Regions from separate parts of the Homo sapiens genome. Here all the other regions are linked to region 1. Evidence: fine-mapped expression QTL. A gene starts in region 1. Each other region holds a variant in brackets. All regions are shown on one strand. Distances are from middle to middle.

Region 1 (5,775 bases):
AAACCAGGTTTTTAATGACTTCGCCTTAAAGGAAAGTATCTACTAATCATTTACTAAAGCCAGTCAGGATTCTAAATGCTTTGCAAGCATTCTATTTTGATATTCATAACAAAACTACAAAGTAAATTGTAGATACTATTATTCAGGTATCCTTGAATACAGAGAAGTTAAGAAATCCGTGCCAGTGGTCTCACTAGTTAAGTGATGTGCGGTACCTAAACCCAGACTGTCTACTCCAGAACCCTAAACAAACGGCCTATGCACACGCCCCTCCATGTAGACTATAAAAGCAATAGCTCTATTCACACTAATTCTAAACACTACAAGTTCAAACTACAGGCAAGTATGTCATAAATTTGATTAAATTGTTAAAGGATGATTAGAAGACAATAATTTGAAGGTTGTAACAGGTGCAGTCCTATAAACAGGCATAACAGATTAGTTTCTAATGCCTTATTAGAATAATAAATGGGAGATAATCTCCTTATCCCCTAAACTCCAGAAATTCTCTTCTATACTCTTCACTTGACACTTTTTTGTTTTGAATACTTTTTTTTCTACAACAAGTTTACTCAGATTTAGGTTTCATTTAAGAGGTGGCTGACCTTTTTTTGCTGACCTTCTGAATTTAATTTGCTATTGTTCTTTTTTTAATATTTTAAAAAGTTTTAATAATTTTTATTTTTTCTGCCATGCTCGGCAAAGACGAGGTCTCACTATGTTGCCCAGGCTGGTCTTGAACACCTCATTGACCTAGTCCTACAATATGATCAGCTGTGAAAACAATAACCCCAAAGAATGCTGTGGAAAAAACATACAGGTTTGAAGGTCAGTTCTGGAAACAGACCTTGCAGCTGTTGTTCATTTTCAGAGCTTTGCTTTCTCCAGGTTATGCCAGTGTCACACCAAATTTAAGAAAGTAGAAATCAGGTCTTCCAGTCAAAGAAAGATGACAAATGCATGTAGTGTTCAAAAGAAGTATACTGCTTTTGAAGGCAATAATACAAGGGCTCACTGTTGGAATTTTCAACAAAAGACTCAAAGGGCAAAATAACACAAAATTTGGAGTAGGACAGCTCTGGGTGCACTTTCTGACCACGTTACACTACATGATCTTAAACAAGTCCCTTATCCTCTAGTATCTCAATTGTTCTAGGGTGGAGGAGGATAAAATGGCTCAACCCATAGCAAGTACTCAATAGATGTCAGTAATAACCCAACAGTAGAAACAGTGCTAGTAGGAGAGACAGTGGTAGTAGTGGTAGTTGAAAGAGACGGTGGTAGTGTGTTCTGTGCAAGACACAATTACGAATGCCAAACTCACCCTCTGGACCGAAATTTTAAATGGGACTCACAAAGACTGATAGTAATCACTAATGGAAATGTTATTAACCAGCAGGGATGTTTTATAATAATTTCATGTATTTTAATAATTTTCAAAAATATTTCAAAGTATTCTAAAGCGTAAGACTTACTACATCCCTCAAAAGGTGTAAAAGTTTTAAAATTACTATATATACTATTGCTGTTGGATTTTTTCCCTTCAGTGAGCATTTCTATCAAGAAGTTGTACCATAAATATAAGTGTATAGTTGTAATTTAACCACGACAATTACACACAAGGAAAAATCCCTTAAACTCTGACAAATAACTTGTAACTTATTTTCAAAATAAAGTTTTTTAAAATTCTTCTTTAAAAACTTCTGGGTTTTCTAGTTTTTTTTTTAATTCTTCCGTATATTCATGAAAAAAATCTCAGTAATTGTTTTCTTTATAAAATGCTAATAAGTTAGAAAATCTTTCTCTGAATGCTGGCCAACTTAAGACCCATAGCTTATCCTGCAGCATCTTTCAAGTTGTTTATCAATGAGGACATGTAAGATGTGTATACCTGTAAGATACGGTTTCATTTTTAAAGTAAAAGTGAGATACCCAAAAAAATACATTTCTCCAGGAAATTGAAGTCAAAGGCAGGATTTGACTGGCAGGAGGTGCTGATAAAATCAGCGCAGCTCATCTAAACTGTTGTGGTCTCCAAGTAACAAGAGGAGAAACAATAATCCTATTACTAGAAGGATTGGGGGTATTAGTACATGCATCCTACTTCAGTCGTAGGCTGGGAACTGCTTTGCCCATTTACTCACAGACCTGTTGAAGTGTCTCAGGAGGATGCTCATGCTCCAAGTGACATTCCTCAATGGAATCCTTAAAAATTCTCATCCCTTTTTTCTCAAAAGTACTCACAGAATCTCATACACTTTGTGCTCCTAGTGTTTGTTTATTTCAGTGCAAACATCTAAGAAATCAATCACCTTACAGACTCCAAACCATTATACTGCATTAGAGAATCTTGTTCACAAAATAAAACATGGAAAGGGTATTCATGTACCCGAAGTTTAACAACAGACATACCATCTTACCTGATGCCACGTCAGATGAGCTCTGCCCCACCTTTCTGCGAACCCTCGTTCGGCAAATTTTGCTTTATGAACGCCTGACAAGGTCCCAGTGATGGAGCAGAGGGAGCAAGAACGGACGGTGCAGAGAAAAGCAACCTTTAGCTTCACTATTCCCTCTCGTCCTCCAGCTGAAAGTTGTTCCACGTCCCGGGCAAAGAGAGAGCCCCACCAGGCAGCACCACCAGCTCCACAGAGTTGGAGTGATTCCCCCAAGAAGCTCCCCTGCGCCCCCCGTCACCCCCAGAGACCAGCAGAGGAAACGGCATCTATCCCTTGGAAGACACTAGGCAGGCGAGAACAAATGCAAGTCCTGCTGCTCACACCGAGGAGGAAAGGATGGAGGAGGCGGTGAATGGGATGTAGCAGAAACCCGACGGCCGCAGCGGAAGGGACACCTCCCCTCTCCAGCCTAACTCTGAGCCATCTTCGCCCTGTTGTCATAGCACTTACAACGGACGCCACTGCGCAGGTCACGCCGTGCCGCGCCGACTTCTGGGGGCTGGAGTCCAGAGAGGCTGAGGCGCAAAGGCGGGGACCGACTTCTGAGAGGGCCGCGGTTGGAATTAGATTGCTACTGGGGCGGGGCTCGAGTGAACCACGGCCTGGTCCTCATTAGCAGAGAGTGATAATTACTGCAATCCTCTGCCCTGTCCTGGCAGCAGTTCCTTAAGGAAGACCCTCCTCCTGCCTGGGCTCCGGGGGCAGGCCACGCCCCCCCGGCCGCGTGACCGCCCTCTCCCCTCGGTGCGTGTGGGTGGGGCCTAGTGGGGGCGGGGCGTCACTGGCTTGTCCATGGTGCTCTGGGATCCTGCGCTTCTGAGAGTCCCAATCGCGGTGTTTTTTTCCTGCCGGGACACTCATGAGGGCCCCGTCCATGCACCGCGCGACCGTGGCGAGGGTGGTCGCGGTAGCGAGCGCCAGCGTGTGCGCCCTGGTGGCGGGGGTGGTGCTGGCCCAGTACATATTCACCTTGGAGAAGAAGGCGAGGCGGAAGACCAAGATCATCGAGATGATGAAGCTTTTGAACAGTTTCCAGTTTTTCCTTTTTTTACTATTTGAAACAGCGCTGCTTTGAAGTTACTTGTGCCTGCGTCCTGATACACATGTGTTAAATATATTTTCCGTATATACCTTAGAGTGCATTTCCTGGTATATGGGATTGGATCTATGTCTTCTTTTGTTTTTTACTTATTTTTTTTTAATCTTTACATTCAAATTCAATGTAGCCAACCTTGAAGTTTTTCTTGTTTGCTTTTTTCAATGGATTCTAGTGTAGGCTTTAAATTTCCAGTATTTCACCATCAATCCACAAATCCACATTCCCAGTAGAAAATACCATTCTAGTTTTAGTTTTTTGGGTTTTGGGTTTTTTTTTTTTTTTTAACTGAGACTGGGTCTCCCTGACAGGGTCGCCTAGACTGGAGTGCAGTGACAGGATCACTGCTCACTGAAGCACTGAAGCCTCAGCCTCCCGGGCTCAAACGATTCTCCCACCTTAGCCTTCCTAGTAAGCTGGGACTACAGGCACAGACCACCACACCTGGCTAATTTTTGTATTTTTTGTAGAGATGGAGTTTCGCCATGTCCAGGTTGCTCTCGAACTCCTGGGTTCAAACGATCCACCCACCTCAGTCCCCCAAAGTGCTGGGATTGCTGGCGTGAGCCACCGCGTCCGGCCTCAATATTTTTAAAAATGACCTTTCAGTCAAAGCCTTGGTAATATAACCAGTTTCCAATTGTATTCTGCTATACAGAGAGAGCAGATTTTTATTAGACTTATTGAAATGACCATATTACCATAAGAAGACTCACAAATGGTTTTCTAATTATGGAGGAATCAAGTAAAGAGAAAAAAAGTTTTTATCTTTTTTTACACAAGTATACTCTATCAAATTGCTGTAAATTATAAATAGCTTAAAAGACAAGATTTTCTTAAATCTGGAAAAAACTATTTGAGTAAAGAACCAACAACATTTGAAATAATATCATAAAAACATTGTCTTCATTAGTTAAACTCACGTAATTAATTCTTGTTCTGCCTGATCTTGATTAATAGTTTCATGAACCCACTTTTTTATTACAGTTCTGGAAATTGTTATATTGTCCATTGATCTTCAAGTTGTTAGAAACCCAAATCTAAGAGTATATTTTAGGGCCAGGCACAATGGTTCATGCCGGTAATCCCAGCAATTTGGGAGGCCAAGGCGGGAGGATCATTTGAGGCCAGGAGTTGGAGAAAAGCCTGGCCAATATAGTGAAACCCCATCTCTACTAAAAATACAAAAAATTAACCCAGCGTGGTAGCGCATGCCTGTAATCCCAGCTACTCAGGAGGCTGAGGCATGAGAATCACTGGAACCAGGGAGGCAGAGGTTGCAATGAACCAGGATCGTGCCACTGCACCCCAGCCTGGGCATCAGAGCAAGATTGTCTCAAAAATAAATAAATAAAAATAAAAGAGTACTTGTTAGAATATTTTCCAGGAGTCTGTTTTTTAAAAAAGAATTCAAAACAATAATATGGATGACAAAAACTTAAAATAGCCATGGTTAAAAATCTGATGAAGTTAACAACTGAGAAGAACATTTATTTATTGCTATTATATACAGTATTTTAAGATAACCAGAATTATGACTGGTAATATAATACATTTGTACGAATTTTTTTTAAAGATGGGGTCTTGCTCTATTGCCCAGGCTAGAGTGCAGTGGCACATTCATAGCTGACTGCAATCTCAAACTCCTGGACTCAAGCAATCCTTCTGCCTCAGCCTCTCAAGTAGCTGGGACTACACGTTTGTACCACCATGCTTGGTTTTTTTTTGGTTTTTTTTGTTTTTGTTTTGTTTTGTTTTGTTTTAATAGAGACAGGGTCTTGTTTTGTTGCCCAAGCTGGACACAAATTCCTGGCTATAAGTAATCCTCTGACCTCAGCCTCCCAAAGTGTTGGGATTATAGGCATGAGCCATCATTCCCAGCATACTTGTATGGACTTATATAATTTTTCAAACATTCATATAAACAATATTCCCATAAATGCAAATAAAAGAAAAATCTAGTATCAGTTATCGTTTGACAATATTTCTTATAAAATTTACCAAATAACCCAAATCATTTAATACCTCTAAAAGATGAGAAAGATATGTTTTAATGCTTTCCAGGAGTCCAACTGGAAAATTCCAAAGTTAATTCTACATTTAAAAAACTTAAATTGGAATTTGATTTTGAGGAAGTTTTTAAAGGGCTCAAAACACTGTATCAATACAGAATCACAAGTTACTTGTGAAATAAGTCATTTATATAACCAGAGTGATAAT
Region 2 (4,000 bases), 64 kb before region 1:
TTTATATACAGTATTTTTTTCCACCTCAGTCACAAACGTGAGACTACTGTGCTGTCAGACCTTATAATCTATACCATGCCGATATTATATCTAGACTCTGACATTAAATTTTCCTTGGTAAAAATTCTACTTTTCTGAACTTCCATTTGGCTGAAAAAACAATCAAAGTAGAAAAATTGGAAGAATTAAAGGAAAATGAATTTTCACAGGACACAGAGAGAAAAGTGTTACAGATGAAAAGATGTGTCTTTTACACTAAATATTAGAGAATTTAAGTAATTTTTTAAAACAAAAACATTTTGATTTGTGGACATTATCACAAATACTCGATAGTTCTGAATACCACATTCCAAGCTAAAAAGTAGGAAGAGTAATCTATAGAAACACAGTTGCAATTAGATAAGACAGTGTATTTCTACTAGATAACTTACATACAATATGCTGCATCACCAGCATATTGAGAAATAATGTGACTAAGGGTGAACCCAGGAGGCCCAAGTTACTCACCCTCACTTTACCACTATGGGAGACAGTGACCACAATAACCCATGCCTTGTAATAGATACTTTAACATGTTTGTTAAAGAGGAAAATAAAACTTAGAAGTTGGCTAGAATAATGGAACTGAGCTAACGTGTTCTAAAAAAATAACCCCAAAGTCTAAAGTATATAACACATCAGCCCTGCCCAATCAAATGTCTATTTTGGTTCAATCATTCAACAAATACTAATTAAGCACCCACTATGTGCCAAAGACTGTGAAAGACACTAGATATGCAGTGATGAACAAAAGACACAGTCCCTGCCCTCAGGAAGCTTATAGAAAAACCTCCCTCTCATTCCTTTCTCAGAACACATAGACCTTCTCTCTAACTAGCAAGGCAATTAAATAACAGTTACTATATTAGGAAGAACATGAGCTTTGGAATCAGATAGCTCTGGGTTCAAATCAGATAGCTATGCCTGGATGTGTCTGGAGAAACACCTCTATCTCTCTGATCTCCAGTCTCCCAGTATGAAAAAATGGTGATTATGTTATCTCACTGGGCTAAATGCAATACCACAACATATAGAAGAGAATAAATACTAGCTCTCTCTCCACATAGTCTTCTCTATAAATAAATATAAAAATTCCTGCTAGATAATCAAACTCCAGGAAACAGAAACATCAAAATTCTGCATGGAAGAGAAGTTTCTAAGCTTAGAAGAAATAAAGTGTACAAGAAAAGAATGATCTGACCACATTAAAACACTTACACAGTTTAAAAGCCAATAACAATCTGGAAAAAAGATATTCACATCAAATACAATGAAATTAATCTGTACTAAATAAGTCTACCAGAATTATTCAAACAACTGAACTGCTGAATCCACAGGAATTTTTATGATGAACATTCGTTTTTCAAATCCAGCATTGGGATTAGTTTTAAAGACCCTTTAAAAAATGTAACTTCGTGGATTAAACAAATAAATAAGTAAATTATAGAAAATAGCAAACATACACCAATGGCAATGAAACCAAAGAAAGAACACAATTTCATACCACAATCTTTAAAATATGGTGACCATAAAGCAGATGTTTCCAAGAATCTTCAGGGCTGGACTTGGTGCATTTTGTGAAGCTGCTAAGACCAAACTCCACATAAGGAGAAGGAGGGGTGAGGCTGTGAATAAACAAAATTCTGAAAATTTCATTAAAACTCTCAAACTTATAGGAAGACAAATCCAGGAAGGGGAGGGGAGATGTAGACAGCCCAGAGAAATGGAAATGCCCATAATACCATAAGTTCTACCTTTACCACATTCCTTCTGGTCAGAAAAGAAAAATACAGGTTTTATCATTTTGGTATTTTTTCTGCAAAAAGAAAAAAGCAGGAAAGGCCATAGACCATAAAAAATAGCAGCCAAGCTAAATAAATATCTCCAGCAATTATGATGAGTAGAAGAAGTGGAAGACAGGCGAGAGGAGGAATTGCCATGTGAAGCCTCACACACACCCACAGAGGACCAGAAGAAAAGTAGGGGGTGGCGAATGGAAACAGCTTCTAATGAAATACAAACAAGGGAAGCAACAAATGGCACTGACTCAAGGAAAACTGATGAATAGTAAGAGAGAAGATCCAAAATCTAAGAATATCTCTCAGCCTTCCAAGATAACAGGTTACAGACCAACCAGGTAGTGTGACAGTAATTCAAGATGCTTAGCAAAATCACAAAAGAGAGGGTTGAAGCCAAATCCTACAGTAAGGCTGCTACAGACAACCCTTCTTCCTCCCCATGTCTTCTCCACTGCCCCTAGATAGGTGATAAGCAGACACACTGC[A/G]TGATATCCAACCGTCAAAACAGTACGTCAGGAAGGAAAACAAACTCCTCTCTGATTGGGTAGGAAAGAAGGCAAGAAAAATTCACCAGCACCATAAAAAAGCAAACAGGCCCAAACAGAGTGGGCCAAGCTAAGCTTGATTGCTCAAGCAAGGTAAAGAGGCTGGCCTGGCAAACCCACAAACATACTACAAAAAAAAAAAAAAAAAAAGGCAGAGAGAGGGACAGGGGAAGACAATATGCGAAAGACAGATGAAGAAAAACAGAACCAAGAATCAGAACAAAGGTCTCTAAAAACATTTCACACTACTGAGCAATTTAATAAGAATATGAATTAAACAAAACAAACACACAGTGACAAAGTGATATGGGAGGCTAAATAACTAAAACAACAAAAAAAAGAACCCAAATAAAACCCTAACAGACAGATATATAGATATATATAGGAGATACCACATTATAATTGAGGGGCAGTTTGTTAACAAGTGAAAAATGGTTATGGTATCATTTACCAAATCTCCAACAACCAGTGGGTCATGTGACCACTGGGTCACAGCAGCCCAAATCCACATAATATGGATAGGATGTAAAAGGGATAGATCTAAAATGACTGTAAGAGACTACTTGCTATGGTCTGAACGTCATCCAAAATTCCTGTGTTGAAAATTAATTCCCATTGTAGTGGTATTAAGAGGTGTGGCCTTTTGGGAAGTGATTAAGTAATGAGAGCTTCACCCTCACGAATGGATTAGTGCCTTGTGAAAGAATGGAGGGAAGTAGCTTAGGCCCTTTGCTCTTCTGCTCCTCTGTTCTTCTGCCATGTGAGGACACCAAGGTGGTGCCATCTATGAGGAACAGGCCCTAGCTGCACACTGAACCTGCTGGCACCTTGATTTTGGACTTCCCAGCCTCCAGACCTGTGAGAAATAAATGTCTGTTCTTTATAAATTACCCAGTCTCAGGTGTTTTGGTATAGCAACACAAATGGACTAGGACACTACTACGTGTCAGGAAATCTCAGGTTTAATGTAACGAAAGTCATTTAAGAGCATTATTCCAAGTATATAGACTGAAAAAGTAACCTGAAAAGCAAGTTAGAAAGAATAAGCAGAAGCTTATGTGCAGTTCAAGAGGTCTTTCCCCAAATATAAAATGTGCACAGTTTTTATATTATTCTATATATTTTTGCCATCTTAAAGGAAAGACAAGTTTTGATTTCAAGTGCACGAATTGCAGGTGAAATGTATCATCACTAAATATTTAGGAATATCTTATAATATGCCACTTTTCCTATTTGCAGCTTGACCCAAATCACGCAGATTTTTTTCTGTCTTCTAGTAAATTCATATATTTTAATACAAAATAAACACCAATATTGAATAAATTACTCAACTGACTTCAAGATATATGCATATAAAGTAAAGGCTTTTCCATTTAACATTTATTGTCATAACTTGCTTGCATTCCATTATACAGCACCAGACTTGACATGATAAACATGCTTTTCACTGGTTGGGCCCTTTAGGTGGTAAGATGACTAAATTCCAGAAACTGTAAAATTACTCTAAAATTACTCTGGGTTAGCTCAAGTTGAAACATTCTGGATTATATTCTACTGTCCACATATATGTTTTCAGTGGTTGCGTTTGGGAGGTGGTGCTTAATCATTTACTTTTTTT
Region 3 (5,775 bases), 530 kb before region 1:
CCATTTGTTACAACATGGGTGAACCTAGAGGACATTATGCTAAGTGAAATAAGCCAGACACAGAAAGACAAATACTGCATTATCTCACATGTGGAATCTAAAAAACTCAAACTCATAGAAGGAGGGTAAAATGGTGGTTACTAAAGGCTGGGGATGAGGGAAATGGGGAGACGCTGATCAAACTGTACAAACCTTCAGTTATAAGATGAATAAGTTCTGGGATCTAATGTACATCATGGGTGGTGAAGAATGTTTTAATTATTCTGATAGTGATAATCATTATACATTATATACTTAAATAAAATCATTGCATTGTATACCTTGAATATATTCAGTTCTTATTCATCAATTAAATATTTCAAAATTTTAAAAAGTCTGAGATGTTCATTATCTAGAAACGAAACGTTCAATGAGATGAGCTCACTTGCCCAAGCCCTGGTTTCCAGCAGGTGACAAAACCAAGATTCTAACTTGGTTGACCCTATAGCCCAGGCTTTTCTTGTAATTCCTTGCCACAGCTCCACAGTTAGAGATCTTGACTTCTACTCTAGGTCTTGTAAGTCCTCCTTTAGTCACAGAAACTCATACTGGACCCTCCACCCTGCCCAGAGCATGATGGAAAGATGACAGACCCACACACCAGCGCCATATGGGCTTTTAAAATTAGAATCAAAGGGGAGCAACATGCTCCAGGATAGACAATCACATTCCTGTTTAAAGAAACCAGACGGGAGATGACTACAGACTAGCAAGTTGAGGGGGATCCTTGGAAGGTGTGTCATATGCTGTAGAAAACTTCCCAAGCCCTTCCTGATTTTAAGGCATTTGGCTACTGACACTGGTTCGAATTTACTAAGTACAAAAATTTTAAAAATTAAAAAAATATAAAGCACTTGGCAAGCAACTTAGAACTTTCACTTCCTTAGTTTCCAGCCGAAACTTTGGCGTCACTGTGGTGGAGCTAAGTGGCCCTGGGTGGAGCGTCACTCAAAGGGTTCGCTTTGGAAGGGCAGTGGGAGAATGAGCAAGTTGAAAGAGAGGGGGTGTCTTGAAGCACATTTGTAGAGCAAGCACAATTTCATTTATTATGCACAACTGTATGCAAAACTATCTCAATTGTATAATTACTTATTAGATTAATTTTAGTGGGTGTTTTGGTGCTGGTGATAGGAGCTAGGGAAGCCCTTGAAGCCACCGCTTAGCAATGCCCCCCCTCATTCAAGGCATATGACCTTCCTGAGCCTCCATTCCTAACCTATAAAATGGAGATAAAAACACCCACTTCATAGAATTTTGTGAGGACTGAGTGAGTCTGCATATCCAGGGCTAATACACAGTAGATGCTCAATTAATAGTGGTTACTTATTAACCCTAAATTGAGTTAAAACTACTTATGGCTCCTCTTTCTCCTTCATGAAGCTGTTATTAAAATGTTTTCTCTAATACATATGAAAATGCCCGGACTATCAAACCCTGGTTTGGAGGACAGTTTGTTCTTAACGTTGACTAAATATTATACAACATCAAGGACCAAAAAGGATTTGAGGTGGCCCACAATAAGAAACACAATGTACGAAATTCATGAAGCCATTAAACGAGAGTGATGATAGAAAAGATTCCAGTAAAGGGGAGAGAGAGAAATGGTGCACAGCCTAGAGCAGCTCTTCTCTCCCTGCAGAAGCATCACTTGCCAACTTATTGGAATGCAGGTCCTGCCTCCCCAGGTCCCCGAGTGGAGCCCGAGATTCTGCCTTTCTCACCAGCTCCCCCCAACCCCACCCCCAGGAAGCAAATGCTGCTGGTTCACACTTTGTAGGGTGAAGGAAGTTAATGAAAGAGGACAAAGCTACTTTATAGTTCAAGTCAATCTTTCTGAACAAATGCAACATAGAATCTCATATGCAAATGCATTCTGATGACTTTTTTAATTAACAGAAAACTCCGGGGATGTTGGTGTGTGTCAAACAGTCCTCCCTGCTTGAACAAATGTTTTCTACTCCTCTGTCTCTCCCTTTTCCTCCAGGACCTTCTGGACCTGACACAGTGAGCAAGAAATCTGATGTGCCCAACAACCCTCTCTCTAAATGATTTCAAGGAAGAGGCAGCAAGCTGCACAGATACTGGAAATGCGTGATGTAACCTTTTACATTCAGAGAAAGGGCTGTCCCTAATTCAAGCCATATTTCACCCAATGAAGTAGACTTATTTAAAACTGGAAAACATCCAAAGAAGATATGAAATTCAATATATTTCAGTAGGTCGTGGCCTTTGCCTTCTTGTGGCCCCAATTACTTCCCTGTGCCCAGATGGGTCGTCCCTCTTTCCTCGTGCTGGATACTTCCTAATGCTCATTCCAACCTGAGCTCTCAAGTGAGGCATCTGCGGGTGAGAAATCTATAATGCACTTAAAGGTTGTTGAGAGCTTCCCAGGAGTCAGGCTATGTCCTAAAAGCTGTAATAGATTATCTCATTTAACCCACTGTGAGGACTCTACAGATGAGGGTGTTTATAAAGATGGAGTATATTATAAAGTCACACCTGTATTAGGTATCATCACAGGGATTCAAACTGCAGTCTATTTAGCCCAGGATTTCTCCACCTCAGCAAAATGTCAAGGGACATTGTGGCCCTGATAATTCTCTGTTACTGGGGGCAGAGGGGCTGTGCTGTGCATTGTGGGACATTTAGCAGCACCCCTGGTCTCTATTCACCAGATGTTATTAGCAACCCCTAATCCTAATTATGACAAACAAATATGTCTCCAGACATTGCCAAATATGCCCTGGGGGGATAAA[C/T]TGCCCCTGGTTGAGACCATCCCAACCCAAAGCCTGAGCCCCTAATAAACAAGGACAGGCATTAGTTTTCAACACTTCACAAGGGCCTATTGTAGGCTGAACTATGTCTCTCTAAAATTCGCATATTGAAGCCCTAAACCTCAGTGGCTCAGAATGGGAATGTTTATAGAGGTAGGATCTTTATGTAGGCTGAACTATGTCTCCCTAAAATTCACATATTGAAGCCCTAACCCTCAGTGGCTCAGAATGGGAATGTATACAGAGATAGACTCTTTAAAGAGGTGAGTTAAAATTAGTTCATTAGGGTGAGCTGTATTCCAACCTGACTGGTGTCCCTATAAGAAGAGGAAATTCAGACACACAAAGAGATACCAGGGTTGCATACACACAGAGGAAAGCCTACGTGAGGACACAGCGAGAAGACAGACAGCTGCAAGCTGAGGAAAGAGGCCTCAGAAGAAACCAGCTCTGCTGACACCTTGACATTGGGCTTCCAGCTTGCAGAACTGTGAGAAAAGTCCTGTCGTTGAAGCCACAAGTCTGTGATATTTTATTATGATCACCCTAGCAAACTAATACAAGTCCCCGAAAGCCACACTCAGCTTTCTGTCTTTACTTTTCCATTTTGTTTAGAATATATCTTGGAAGGTTTCCGAACCAATTCCAAGCCTAGCAAAAGAAAAGGTCAGTTCATGAGTTCTGTGGAGACATATCCCAAAATATAACCTGGCAATACTGTGCCTGATCCATATTTGTCTTGAAGATAACCACTGCTAGGAAAATATTCCTGAAATTCTTAGCAGGCCATAGCAAGTTGCTTTAGGACTTTCATGACTGGTTGTCAGTCATACCCTCACACTAACCCTGTTTGTGCCCTTGTCTTTATGTGTTTTTAGTGAGAATATACTTTCTAGAAACTAAACAGAATGGCAATATGATGTAATGCCAAGATAGCAAGGACAGTTTTGATGTCCCTCCCCAGTCTAGTTCATGGCAGACATTATAGAAAATGAGTCCCAGCTCACTTTCTCACTAAGACAAGAAGGCATCAGCATCCTTCTTAACACTAGGCTCCAGGCAAGACTACAAAATGATCAGAGGTGGCAGGAGAGGTGAATTCTTAAGCTATCTTAGGTGCAGTGCCATGTTCTGTACGCTGGCCGCACACTGGAATCATTTGAGGATTTTTTTTAAAATACCATGGAAAAGCAAAAATTGACAAATGGGATCTAATTAAAAGCTTCTGCACAGCAAAATAAACTATCATCAGAGTGAACAGAATGGGAGGAAATTCTTGCAATCTATCCATCTGACAAAGGTCTAATATCCAGAATCTACAAGGAACTTAAACCAATTTACAAAAAAAAAAAAAAAACCCCATTACAAAATAGGAAAAGGATGTGGATAGACATTTCTCAAAAGAAGACATTCATGCAGCCAACATACATATGAAAAAAAGCTCAACATCACTGATCGTTAGAGACATGCAAATCAAAACCACAATGAGATATCATCTCATGCCAATCAGAATGGCGATTATGAAAAAGTCAGAAAACCACAGATGCTGGCATCATGGAACAGAGGATTCCAGCCTGCCTGCAGGCTCAAACACACTACCTGTAGGGCTACACAAAAAGCTCTCAGGGTCTTGGGGCCTCAGTTTTCCCATTTGTAAAATGGCCATCATAACTCTTGCCTTTCCTATTTTATGGGATTGCTACGTTCAAACAGATAAAGCTGAAAACCACACAAAATATAGAGTGTGATCAATTTTAAAATCAAGCAATATTCTGCTGACATTAGCATCAGTGGTTCTCATCTCATCCCTGCACCAATCCACTGTGCAACCTCAGGTGAGTATTTTGCCTCTAGAGGCTTCAGTTTAGACTCACATAAAATGAGGAAGTGTCTAAAGCCACCTTCAGAACAAACATTACACGTTCCTGGCGGGAAAGTTTAATATGTTGTACGTTAATCATGGCTATTTCAGTTGAGATCTGATTTTCTCATTAAACATCATGGGTTTACATTCCTCCTCTTAACACCAAGATGACTTCAGGAATCAAATTTAAATTACGTTGTAGCCTGGAAGCTAATTTTGTTATTGGGATCAAGTACCTTAAATGTTCAATATTTGGCCCAGAAGTCCAATTCTTGGAATTCATTTTAAGAAAATAATCAAGATGTGGTCAAAGCATTAGGTACAAGGATGTTCATTACAGCATTATTTATAAATGTGGGGGGCAGGGAGTAAATATAACATCTAACAAGAGAAATGTTTCTATAAATTATGATACAGTCATAGGGTAGAATATTATATAGTCATGAAAAAATACCTGTATCAAAAAATATTTAATGACAGAGAAAGTATGATATATGTTAAATAAAACAAGAGATAAAGGACAGAAAACTTGATACAACACACACACACACACACACACACACACACAAACACACACACACACATCCCAGAAAATGATTAGAAGGAAATACATAGATCAAATTGTTAATCAGTGATACTAATTTTAATGATTTATAGGATGCTTTTATTTTCTTTATATTTTCTGCACTTTCTAAATTTTCTTCCATATGCACAACTGCTTTTATCAACAGAAGGGGAAAAGCATTATTTTAAAGAGCTACTGTGGATTCAGACATAATAAAGACAATACATTTGCGGAAACATATGGTGAAGGAAAACATAACAGGCCAACATCTCAGCAAAGAAACCAGCACCATCCCCCAGAAGCAGGGCCTGTGTGAAAACTGGGAGAGGTCAGGACTTCAGGTGAAAAGGGAAGACCAGCTGCGGCCTCTCCCACCTGCAGCAGGTCGTTATGCAGTTGGAAAAATGGCAAAGTCTCCCAGCTCAGTGCTTAGTGGGCTTTTACCATCTTATCTGCACAACTCACATTGTATCTTTGGAGGACGTAGGGAAGGGAGAAAGAATCCAACGTAAAGCACCAAAGAGGCTTAAAAC
Region 4 (5,775 bases), 580 kb before region 1:
ATGGTTCAGAAATAAATTACATATGGCTCAGGAACATATGAACAGATGTTTATCTCACTTATAAGAGAAATTCATATTAAAACAAAACTGAGAGACCATTTTTAAAATACATATTGGTAAAAATGTTAAAGTGTGATTACGTGCTTCTGTGGAGTGGCTAGGGGAAACAGGTAGCCTCATATATTGCAAGTGGAAGTAAAACTTCATGCAATACCCAAGGAGGGAAATTTGAGACTCTCCATCAAAAAGGAAAATGCTTTGACCAAGACATTCCACCTGCAGAAACATCAGCTACATTTCTGGGCCAGCTGGGACTGACAGCCAAGTACAGCCTCTGACACCATCTCTGCTTACAGCAAGTCCCATAAACTCTTACCGGATGGGGACAGTTTTCACACAATAGAAGACAGAAGCCACAACACACCCAACAAAATCACACTTGCTGATGTTGGCCAGAACATTTCTCACAGCTGTTTCTCTTTCCTGGGTTTGACAACGAGGGATCTTGTGCACTGAACAGACCCAGCCATATGATCTCAGCAACACAACACCTCTCAGCCTTCAAGCACTGAAAAACCACAAATGAGAAGTGTACTCCCACCACTAATTGCTTTAAGATGTGATATGAATTAAAGCTGCCTTCCCTCCCCTTTTTAATTCAGGCCACTCTATTAATTTTGCTACCCAAGGGTGATTACTCTAGTTGTCCTAAACTTTGCTGACAACCCGCCCTTCCCATGAAATATATACTGCATTTCTAGAGAAGCCCTTTGGTTAAAGATACCCTCCTTCTTTGTGATACTTTGCTCACCTTTCCCTAACTCTGTATTCTGAGTAGCAACATGAAACGTGACAAACATTCCTCACCAAAAATGATCATGATCCTAATATAACATATTCCATTTCTATCTCATTCCTCATTTACCTTTACCAAGGCAGCATTCAAAGGGTTAACTCCTTTCCCCCAACAGAGTGAAGCATTTTTGCTGACCCAGTGTGAGATGGGTTGGACCAAATTCAATTTAGCTGCAGTCAACAGGAAAGTAGGAAGAAAAATAGGATCTAACAAACCAAGCATTAAAAAAAGAGGGAGTCCACAGCAGGAAATAATTATTTGGGCAATTGTTCACTTTGTTAAAGGACCAGCCCGTATGAATATCCATCAGGATGCAGTGCTGTGTCCGTGGTTTCTCCGCAGCACCCTGTCTGGTCTAATTAGTTACAAAAGCAGTTCTATGGGCTGGAGAAATGTGCAATTGTGTTGTGTTTCAGGGGAACAAACACATATGTCATTGAAGTGGAGTCTGGCACCAGCTTATTTTGGTGAAACCTCGAGTGGTCGGCCAGAATGGAATCAATACGAAAGGAAGCTCTGAATGCCAACAGAAGTGGTTTACAAAAATAATTCACTGACCATTCCATCTGCCTCGGATTAAGCGTGTTAAACGGTTCAGTTCAAGTTAACATTTCTAATATATAGATATACATAAAATAAACAAAACCACATACTTTTATCAAATATTTGCATTTGAAAACCTCCACTAACATACACACACCCAGAACTCAGCCTGTGCTCTTTCATCTGACCGTATACTTTTCCCCTCAGAACATTTACACTAAAAACATGGAATCTGAAAGAAAACTCAGATTGGCCCACTAGAGAAGAGTAAACCCCCTGTGGAAAGGAAAGTGAAAATAATATTTTCAGAATAAAAATCTTTCAGTCTGTAAAAGGAGTTTTATAGCTCAGTCTTGGGAAAGTCAGCCAAAGGTTCACCTGACATGTGAACAGAGCAGGTCTTGGGGAATCAAGGCTTAGCAGATTTGTTCATTCACAGTCCTGACAATGGGTGCTGGAACCAAATCAATAACCTGTCGATATTGCAAAACTATCAGTTTGCATAGAAAGTCTACTATATGCATTTTTTAATTGCATAAATTAGAATCTAAGGAGACATGATGCCACAGATAAATAACAAATAAAAATGTCAACACATATTGAATACTTACTAAGTTAAATACTGCTCATGTAATCTCTGTAACCACACTGAGGCAGGCATTGTATTACTATCTCGATTTAGCAGATGTGAAAACTTAAGCACAGAGTGGTTGAGTAACTTGCCCAAGATCATACAGCCAGGAACTACAAGAGGCCTGGATTGGAACCTGGGCCATCCAACTCCGGATCATGCTCTATTCTACTCCCCAGTGTACACAAAATAGGCAAGAGAGGTGTCACACAGGAAGCCAGAGCAGTTTCCCACAGCAAGTCCTAGGAGCAGACAGGGTGAAATTAATCTACTCATTGGCAGGCCTTTGCCTCCCATTCACTCCCTTCACACAGTAGGCCATGAAACAAAGGGGCCCTGCATCCACTCAATCTGTACTGCAATCCTTTGTTCCCCACCTGCCTACCCTGGGGACTCTTGCCCCTTACCTGTGGAAGGAGGGTGAAATGGGATAGCTTTTCACAGCCCAGCAGGGAAAAACAAACAAACAAACAAAAAAACAAAGCCAGCTGCTTCCCTGGGAACAAATTCCTAGGCTTGGCTAAAGAATGGCTTTGCAGGCCATCAATGTCAAGTTCAAACTCTGCAAATGAGCATATCCTGCCAGATCAAGTAGCTCTAGAGATTCTGCTTCCCTGTAGGGTCCCACGACCTGTGCTCCAGCTTATCTGGTAAGGAAGCAGAGGTGGACCAGGAAGACAAAGGCAGAAGGACTCGGGAGCACATGCTCCTACACGCATTTGACGCAGCTTGTCTCGGTGAAGCCTCACAGGATCCTGTGTGGCTGATGAATTCAGAGTGTGTAAGTGGCTTGATGAAAGTCACACGCATAGTGAATGGCAAAGTGAGGATTCAAGCCGAGCTCTGACTCCTAGCCCTCACTTTGTTGGCTTGGTGATGCTTGGCAGCCCAGCCAGCAAACTCAAATGCGACTTGGTATGAGTTTTTCAATGGTGCCCTTACTCCATGCACTGCCAGCAAAATAGCACAAAAATGATAAAATCGGTGAGAGGATTGGCACCCCCAAAGAGGGCAGCCCTGATGCTGGAGGACAGGGGCTCAGGTCCCTGAGACTGGTCTAGTGAACCTCCGCTAATAGGGTCCTTGGCTTTAGTCTGC[G/A]AGCAGCATGTGAGCTCATGCGGCTCCTGGGTCAGGCTGAGCAAGACTGTGGAGTGTTTCCAGCACTCAAGGTGACGGGAAATGTTGAGCAAAGTAGGTGCAAAGCCTTGTCTAATATTTCCATTTACCTCCTTTGTCTGTCTGAATAAGTGTCATTAATTCAAACCATTTCAAAATGGGGCTTGAAGATGTGTGAGAGCGGAAGCCCCCAAGCCCCTGGCCTCTCCGCACCACATCCTTGCTGACTCTATCTCTTGTGTGCAGTGATCAATTGAACCCCAGCAAATGTGCTGTGAATATTGCAGCTAAACTGACCACTGATGTGCATGTGTCTGTGTGTGCACAGCGAGGGGAGGGGGACTAGAAGCAGCATCCTAAGCCGGCTCTTCTCCCATCCATTTCCCTGGCCTGACATCCCCCTACAATCAAGTTACCCCTCCTTCTCCAGCACCCCACCCCCCAGATAAAGCAAGACCGCACCAGGAACACTTCAAGGGAAGAAAAGACACTTCAAGGGGAAAAAAAGTGTTATTTTCTCTCTAGGAAATACCCCCAAATCAACTACTTCACTAACTTCTCACTGCTAATGCTTTTCTTATAGAGAGCAGAGTTCTCACTGAAATAACAGCTAGCTTCAATAATACTGTAAATTCTGCAGCCAGAAGGAAAACCCATCCTTTTCCAAATGCAAGAGAAAAGTCTGAAAGCTTAGCAATGTACAACTTTAATATTTTGGTTGATAACATGCCATGGACCCAGAGTATTTTCCATTTCCTCTTTGTCCTTTTTCCAGTGATCTTAAGGCCTTTATTAAATCTATCAAAACCTAAATATGAGTCGTGATGGTAAAAATTAGGTGACTTTTTTCCTAACAAATATGGTAGAAAAGTATATCCATCCAAATGAGTCTCATCCTCTTCAAAGTGGACTCCTATATGGGACTTAGGCTTATGTTAAGGAGGTCTCCACACACACACACACACACACACACACACACACACACACACACACACAGAGTTATCTATGTGTGTGGGAAATTCTTTTGCAGTTGCATTCAGCATAGGCACATCATTTTGAATACACTTCATGGTACCATACTATGATTTTTAGGAAAAACCCAAGATGTTCAGTGCCATGTCTGCTGTCTTTAAAAAATAATCAAGCTGAAGCATAGTATTTGAGGGTCAAAATGAGATTGCACTAGAGCAAAAAAAAGATTTTCTGATGTATCCTCAGAAGTCTTTTGTACTGGAGTCCATTATCCAAAACACATCAAAGCAGATTTAGGGCTGAGGAAGAGTGTGCCTGCCAGTTTAACCCCTCCGGTATTTAAACACTCCCCACCTTTCAGCAATTCCTGAGGCACCTCTGAGATCCCCTGCCTGCCCTCTGCATACAGCCCGGTATTCAAACATCTAAGCCAATTCTAAAAAAGCTGTTTGTAAACTGTAAAGCCCAGGATAAACATGAGTCTATTCTCCCCAGATCTGCTCTATTAGCCACAGGGTCTGTCATCTGTAGACATCTATGGCCACGACTAAAATAATGATTTCAAAACATTCATCTACTGCGGTTGACCCTAGCCCTGACCTCTAGCAACTTACTGTCCGCAAAGGGGTTCCGTGATCTCTCTAAAAATCACTACTGTAGTAGGCAGAATTCTAAAGATGTCCCCAAGATTTTTACCCACCAGTCATTCAATTCAACACAAATCTAGGTGATGCTATGAAGGGACTTTGCAGATGAATTAAGGTTACTGGTCAGCTGACTTTAAAATAGGGAGATTATCCTGAATCATCCAGTTGGACCCTACGCAATCACTTGGGTCCTGAGAAGCAGAAGAGGAAGGCAAAAGAGGGAACCAGAAGAAGGTGGTGGAAGAGGGAGGCAGGGGACAGATGAGCTAACGGGAGGTCAGAGAGATGTGAAACATGAGAAAGACTCAACCCATACTGTTGGCTTTGAAGAAAGAGGAAAAGGGCAATGACTCAAATAATGCAGGCAGCCTCTGGAAGCTGACAATGACCCTGATCAACAGCCGGGAATGAAGTGGGGACCTCAGTCCTACAACCACTTGAATGAAACTGGAAGCACATTTTCCACAAGGGCCCCTGCCTCCTTGTGCAGCCCTGCCCACACCTTGATTTTAGCTTGTGAGACCAATTCACACTTCTAACCCACACAACTGCAAGATAATAAATGGGTATTATTTTCAGCTGCTAAATTGGTAGTAACTCACTGTGGCAGCAATGGAAACCTAATACAGCTACCCACAATGTTTTCCTGACATCTGCAGTCTTCTAGAGAAACTAGATCACTCTTAGTATTAGAAGATATTGTTTCAGTCCAGTTCATTTGGCAAACATATGGGGCACCCACACGCTGGGCAGAAGCCAGGCGAGAGGACACATCACAGGTCATAATAGAGAAGACATTGCCAGGGGCTAGATGGGCTACAGCCTGATATTTGGAAACAGCCAGGGGGAAAATGAAATGATGTGAGTCTAGTCTTGGTGCTTAACACTGACTGCTCATTGGATTCACTTGGGGAGTTTTTAAAAATCCCCATTCCAGCTCATACCTCAGACCAATTACATCAAAACTTCAGGAAGATGAGCATCAATGCATTTTAAACCTCCACAGGTGA

Direction of the effects. Alleles are on the strand shown, and positions count from the first base shown. SD is a standard deviation of normalised expression in the study named. Not every link is listed here.
With allele G in place of A in region 4, the expression in subcutaneous fat of the gene that starts at base 2,898 in region 1 is higher (moderate effect, 0.64 SD a copy in FUSION).

Evidence for each region. PIP is the estimated chance that this variant, and not a neighbour inherited with it, causes the effect. A credible set is the group of variants that fine-mapping cannot tell apart.
Region 2: its variant is the best candidate, but not a certain one, in a credible set for the expression of BBS9 in whole blood (INTERVAL, PIP 0.81).
Region 3: its variant is the best candidate, but not a certain one, in a credible set for the expression of BBS9 in testis (GTEx, PIP 0.80).
Region 4: its variant is the best candidate, but not a certain one, in a credible set for the expression of BBS9 in subcutaneous fat (FUSION, PIP 0.87).

The regions. Positions count from the first base shown.
Region 1 is chr7:33,126,687-33,132,461 of GRCh38, reverse strand. It overlaps BBS9 (Bardet-Biedl syndrome 9), which reads right to left and starts at 2,898. Exons shown (of 23, transcript NM_198428.3): 1 at 2,421-2,898. RefSeq lists enhancers at 2,836-2,945, 3,436-3,485 and a silencer at 2,996-3,295.
Region 2 is chr7:33,191,955-33,195,954 of GRCh38, reverse strand. All of the region lies in intron 5 of BBS9 (Bardet-Biedl syndrome 9), which reads right to left. Among named protein-coding and RNA genes, the nearest start is that of BBS9, 64 kb to the right of the region's middle. The variant A/G (reference allele first, on the strand shown) is at 2,323.
Region 3 is chr7:33,660,554-33,666,328 of GRCh38, reverse strand. No RefSeq gene overlaps it. Among named protein-coding and RNA genes, the nearest start is that of FLJ20712, 63 kb to the left of the region's middle. The variant C/T (reference allele first, on the strand shown) is at 2,796.
Region 4 is chr7:33,702,345-33,708,119 of GRCh38, reverse strand. No RefSeq gene overlaps it. Among named protein-coding and RNA genes, the nearest start is that of FLJ20712, 21 kb to the left of the region's middle. RefSeq lists an enhancer at 2,020-2,888. The variant G/A (reference allele first, on the strand shown) is at 3,129.